2 linked regions of the Homo sapiens genome follow. The protein of the gene in region 1 purifies or fractionates together with the protein of each later gene. This does not show direct contact. Each region holds a gene or a part of one and is shown in the gene's direction. Other genes may lie near its edges. The genes, in order: TAMM41 and MIX23.

Evidence for each region.
Region 2: the proteins of TAMM41 (region 1) and MIX23 purify together in Homo sapiens (co-immunoprecipitation; one large-scale study listed by IntAct). This does not show direct contact.

Annotation. Positions count from the first base shown.
Region 1 is NC_000003.12:11,789,685-11,792,486, reverse strand, and holds the end of TAMM41 (phosphatidate cytidylyltransferase, mitochondrial isoform a precursor), read left to right. Parts: intron 1-1,905; coding exon 1,906-1,982; 3' UTR 1,983-2,045; downstream 2,046-2,802. UniProt on the Homo sapiens protein: Catalyzes the conversion of phosphatidic acid (PA) to CDP-diacylglycerol (CDP-DAG), an essential intermediate in the synthesis of phosphatidylglycerol, cardiolipin and phosphatidylinositol.
Region 2 is NC_000003.12:122,373,126-122,376,955, reverse strand, and holds part of MIX23 (protein MIX23), read left to right. Parts: intron 1-3,830.

The DNA of each region.
Region 1 (2,802 bases):
TAGATTTTCCTGCAGTGTTAGGGAGTTCACAGACACTCAGACTTAATCTGTGGACCCCTTGTTAGAGAACCCCTCATCTATTCCAACCCAGTCATTTTACAGATAAGGAAATTGAGGCCCAGGGAAAGGCCACTGTTAGTTTGTGGCCCACCTGGAACTAGAGTCCAGGTCTCTTGACTCCGATTCTAGTGCTCTTTCTAACAGATTTCCCTGCTGCAGTCTTTCTGAAAATGTCTCACTGGCAGAACCATGAAAGGGAGAATGTTTTAGTCAAGGGAGATTTCTGTCCACTAGCAGCAACAAAAAAAAAAAATGGCTACATGGTGACACTCTTCTACTTTATGTATTTACCTTAAATGTTTAAGATCCAGGAACTGCTTTTTGAAGTTGAGCTGGGAATTATCATGGCCCATGCATCCTCCTCTAGCTGTGACTCAGTGCCCTGGGGTTGCTATATGAACCTTTCCATGTATAACTACCTGTATTCGGCTTGGTCTTTTGGTTGGTTCTGGCTGGAATTTTAAAAACCACCTTATATAATAAGCTTCTAGTCTCAATGCTGAAGTGGGTGGGGTTTACCAGAGTGGTTGCTCCAGGGAGAAAATTAAAAGGGGTGGAGGCAGGGAAAGGAACTCTGAGTTTGTTGACTAGGTTATGTTGGTTTGCAAGTAGTCAGCTGGTAGACAAACGAAGCCAGAGTGTCTGGAAGTATTCATTAATGATTTTACTGCTCCCCTGCCACTGTCTGCAGTGGTCTTTTCCAAGGCTCTAAGTGGACTAAGCAGTTTACAGGTAACAGGGCCAGATATTTTCAAGCCATCACTCAAACCCCAGTGCTAGGCATGTCCAGAGCGAAACCTGTTACCTTGTCGGCATGCTCACCAAAGTGCACTGCCAGGGGTGTGCACTTTACACTCATAGCACAGATCACAGTTTGTGTCTCACAGTGAAAAAGACTGTTCATATCTTTGGGCCACACCCTGAAACACAAACTGAATGATCCCACCCTCAACACAAAGGAAGTTGAGTCCATAATCGCATCCACAGATAGGATACTCTTAGATCTGACAAATAACACCCATTTATTTTATTCCCTTTTTCTTCTTTCCCCTAAGCCCCCGGAGAGCCTTTCTCCAGTTTCATCACACACTCCTGACTAAGTAGATGGGGGTGCTAGGGGGCCAGCTCTCCGAATGAGGCACATTTGTCTTGTCATTTCAAAAGCTTTCACAGAGCACCTGCTGTGTTCTGGGTCCTGTACTAGGTGACAGGGCCACCTAGGTGAACAGGGCAAGGTCCCTGTCCTCAGGAAGCTCCCAGTCCAGGCAGAGGCGTGGGTGAATCGGCCCACACGTACTGCACAGTGTGTTGAGTGAGCACAGATGCTGTGGGGCCACCCTGTGGGTCCAGGGAAGCACTTCCTAGAGAAGAAATCCAAACAGGGATTCCAAGTCAACGAGGCAGAAAGTGATGGGAACAGCATTTGTCATAGTCAGACAGGTGCCTTTCACAGTGACATAGAGACAGTGAGGTGGGGTTGGAATTTAGGCCTGAGAGAACGGGGACCCAGTGGCATACAGAGTCTTATCCTTGTCCTACCTTTTTGAAAGAGCTAAATTCAGAGGCTGCCAATATGTTCATAACTCAAAAGGATCACTTATCCCAATAACTTAGGAACCGTTGGCATCCATAGCCCTAAATCGGAAAATGCCGAAATCAGAATCATTTCCCCCTACATTGATCACAGTGACCTTTAATCACCTTCAGCTCCCTGGTCTCCTAGAGCCACGGGTCAGCCCCTCACTGCCCTCCTCCAAAGACAAGTCTGCTCAGAATGTCACTGAAACTCTGAGCATCCACTCAACAAGCCTCCATCTTCTTACTTTCTCATCTTTTCTCTTTTAGGCCTGAAGAAGTCAGTGATTTATAGTTCACTAAAACTGCACAAAATGTGGAAAGGGTGGCTGAGGAAAACATCCTGATTTTGCTTGCTTTTATATATGTTATGTGTAGATGAATAAAGTGTTTGATCCTTTTTGACAGAACAGTGTTTGTTACTTTGACCCATTGCTTGAATTCAAAGATACCCTGGTTTGCATAATACTTGGTTTTTTAAATGTATGCATCAGACATTTATCCAGTTGGGACCCAAATATATTAGAGGGCTTAGCATCAGAAGAAAAGAACCCTCTCCATGTACAAAGTCATGTGGGTCCTGCAGAATAGCTTTGCCTGTCCTGCATTCTGTAGGTACGTGAGAGTCAGACATGACAAATTTCTTGTATGCTGTCAACACGTAGCCCAGGAAACTTACAGGGTGTGGAAGCTTGACTTTCTCTGCCTGGCTTGTTATGTCTCTAGTCTCCATCCTGTTCACTTGTTTTTTTTCCAGCAGGGGCTCGCAAGTGTCACGTCAACATTTCCCTGGATCTAGGCTTTTCGTGTGTTTCTTTGTTCTCCACTAAAGTGTATGGCAGTGACTTTTGGGTTAGGAGCCTGGAACAGACACCTTGCAGAGCCTGCCTTATTGTAACAGTTAGGACGTGTTTGGGCAACAGGAAACCCACTGCAGAGTGCCTTGAACAACAAAGGACAGAATCATGTACCCCAGTTTCTCTCCATCTCTCTGCCCTCTGCAGTGTTAGCATCGTGCTGAGGCTGGCTTTGCTCTGTCATGAGACTGCTGGCAGCAGCTTCAAGGGCTGTGGGCTTCCAAATCACAACTGGGAGCCACAGAGAAGACTCCTTTCAGATGGCCTCTTAGAAAAGCAAGAAACCTTCCCAACAGCCCCTAGCAAGCCT
Region 2 (3,830 bases), about 110 Mb from region 1:
ACCTCAGCCTCCCAAAGTGCTGGGATTACAGGTGTGAGCCACTGCACCTGCTTGATAGCCTTCTAATTTACCCATCACACAAATTATGAACATAGTACCCAACAGGTAATTTTTCACCCCCCACCTTCCTCCTTACCCTTGCCCTTTGGAGTCCCCAATGTCTATTCTTTCCATCTTTATGTCTATATGTACCCATTGTTTAGCTACCATTTATAAGCAAGCACATTTGGTATTTGATTTTCTGTTTTGAGTTATTTCACTTAATGGCCTCCAGCTCCATCCATGTTGCTGCAAAGGACATGATTTCATAATTTTTCTTCTTTTTTTGGAGACTTGGAGACAGAGTTTCGTTCTTGTTTCCCAGGCTGGAGTGCAATGGTGCAATCTTGGTTCACTGCAACCTCCACCTCCTGGGTTCAAGCTATTCTCCTGCCTCAGAGTCCCAAATAGTTAGGATTACAGGCACCTACCACCACACCCAGCTATTTTTTTGTATTTTTAGTAGAGATGGGGTTTCACCGTGTTGTCCAAGCTGGTCTTGAACTCCTGACCTCAGGTGATCCACCCACCTCAGCCTCCCAAAGTGCTGGATTACAGACGTGAGCCACCATGCCTGGATGATTTCATTCTTTTCTGTGGCTGCATGGTATTCTATATATATGTGTGTGTATACGTACACCATATTTTCTTTATCCAGTCAACTGTTGATGGACACTTAGCTTGCTGCTGTGAATAGTGCTGTGATCAACATATAAGTACAGGTGTCTTTTTTTTTTTTTTTTTTTTTTTGAGACGGAGTCTCTCTCTGCTGCCCAGGCAGGCTGGAATGCAGTGGCACGATCTCGGCTCACTGCAACCTCTGCCTCCCTTGTTCAAGTGATTTTCCTGCCTCAGCCTCCCCAAGTAGCTGGGATTACAGGTGCGCGCCACCATGCCAGTCTAATTTTTGTATTTTTAGTAGAGATGGGGTTTCACCATGTTGGTCAGGCTGATCTCGAACTCCTGACCTCATGATCCACCCACCTTGGCCTCCCAAAGTCAGGCGTGAGCCACTGCGCCCATCCTCTAGGTGTGTTTTTTATATAATGATTTATTTTCCTTTGGGTAAGTACCCAGTAGTGGGACTGCTGGGTCAAATGGTAGTTCTGTTGTTGGTTCTCTGAGAAGTCTCCACATATTCCATAGAGGTTGTACTAATTTACATTTCTGTCAACAGTGTATAAGCGTTCCCTTTTCTCTGCATGCTTACCAATATCTGTTGCCACAACAAAACTTTAAAAAAAAGTTTTATTATACAAGATTTTAAACATAACACAAAAGAAGGCTGTACCACAAACACTCATGTACCCATCCCCCAACTCCAACAACTAACTAATTCATGGCTACTCTTGTTTCATCTGTTCGCTACTACCACATATCCCACCCTAATCCGATCATTTTGAGGTCATCCCAAATACCATATCATTTTTTTCTGTAAAATTTCTGTCTATATCTCCAAAAGATTACAACTTTCTAACACCATACTATTGCCACATACAGACAATGAACAGTAATCACCAGATAGCCTGAGTCAGAATACAACTCTTGATGTTCCTACTCTTTCCAAGTCTCTTCCTTCCCCAGTCTCCCCCACCATAAGTTAATGGCACTTCCATACAATTAGATGCTTAGGCCCCAAGCCTGGAAGTCATGCTATTTTATTTTCTCGTCCCTGACCACCAATTCAGCAATTTCTGTTAGCTCTATCTTCAAAATATATCCTAAGTCCAACTACCTCTCCTTAATTCTACTGCTACCAGTTTTTTTGTTTGTTTGTTTGTTTTAGACAGAGTCTCGCTGTGTTGCCCAGGCTGGAGTGCAGTGGTGCAATCATGGCTCACCAGTGCCTCAACCTCCTCAGCTCAAGCAATCCTCCTACCTTGCCTCAGCCTCTCAAATTGCTGGGATTACAGGCATGAGCCACCACCCCCAGCCCAGATGTTCCTATCGTTGGTTCAATCATGTCATTTAGATTTTAGCGCAAATGTTACATCCTCAGAAAAGCCTTTTTTGATGTCTATCTGAAGTAGCCCCCAAGCACCACTCAGTCACTCTTCATCTCATCACCTTAGTTTGTTTTCTTTTTCATAGTACTTTTTAGTATCTGAGATTATCTTGTTTATAGGACACTTGTTTAATTTCTATCTCCCCCTTCAGGAATTTTGCTCTGTAAGAGCAAGGACCTCTTTTATTCGCTACTGTAGCCTTGATGTTTTGAATGGTGCCTGACACATGCTAGACATAGGACAGTTGGCCCTCCCATATCTATGGGTTTTACATCCATGGATTCAATCAACCGTGGATCGAAGATAGTTGAAAAAAAAGTTGCATCCATACTGAACATGTACAGACATTTTTCTTGTTATCATACCCTACACAATACAGTGTAACTAACACCTATTTACATAGCATTTATATTGTATTAGATATAAGTAATCTAGAGATTATTTAAAGTATATGGAAGGATGTGCATAGGTTATATACAAATATTGTGCCATTTTATATCAGGGACTTGAGCATCCTTGGATTTTGTTAACCATAGGAGGACCTGGAACCAAACCCCCATGGATACTAAGGGATGACAGTAATTATATGAAGAATGAGTTAATAAATAATGAGCTCTGTGATACTGTCTCTTACTGCTGCATTATTTAAAGACAAATATTGCTGAGGGCTTTCATAACCAAGGAAACCTCTATCCAAAAGGCACAACTTAACCCTTGGCCTCAGAAGATCAGTTCAGTTTAGATAGCGAAAAGGAAGGTTTTGAAAGAGAATTTAAAGAGGCTTTTTTTTTAAAAAAAAAAAAAAAAATAGGCCAGTCATAGGAGGTAAAGTGGCAAGGTAGGTCCCTGTCTTCTACTTACCTATTTTTTTTTTTGGACTTCCCAAATAGTACTGCCATCATTTGTTTGGAATTTACCACTTAAGCACAATACATATATCCTTCACTATGTGTGGTGGTTGCCCAATGAATGCATTGAGATTATTCCTTAAGAATTCCAGTTTACAGAGAATACTATTAAAAAAATAGAAAGATACAGGACGAGAAGATAATGAACTTGGTTTTAGACCTGATATTTGCTAGTGTTTTATTAGTCTGAATTATGAGCCTTCTGCAAGCCGTTTCACTTCTAGATTGAGGTATAGAAAAGGCCATTAAATTCACTAATTAAAAATTAGTGGAATGATAGAACAGAATCTAGACTACAGACTTAGATTGAATGGGCTAAATGGTTTATAATTGGAAACAACCTAAATGTTTGTTAATGAGAAAGTGGCCAAATGAGTTGTGCTTGAACAGGATAGAATACTTAAACGCAACTATTTAAAATATCTTCAGGGCTGGGTGCGGTGGCTTTTGCCTGTAATCCCAGCACTTTGGGAGGCTGAGGCCGGTGGATCGCTTGAGTCCAGGAGTTCAAGACCAGCCTGGGCCATGTGGTGAAACCCTCTCTCTACAAAAATATACAAAAAAATTAGCAAGGTGTATTGCACATGCCTGTGGTTGCAGCTATTTGAGGGGCTGAGGTGGGAGGATCACCTGAGCCCAGGAGGCAGAGGTTACAGTGAGCCAAGATCGCGCCACTGCACTCCAGCCTGAGCAACAGAGTGAGACCCTGTCTCAAAAAAAAAAAAACTTTCAAGACATTTCTAGCAACATTATATTATGCTCATAATATAATGTCTTGAAGCCAGATTTTAAAATGTTACATAGTACCTCAGTTGTATAAAAACATTAATAGGTATGTGTAGAAAAAAGACCAAAGGGACATATTAAAATGTTGATA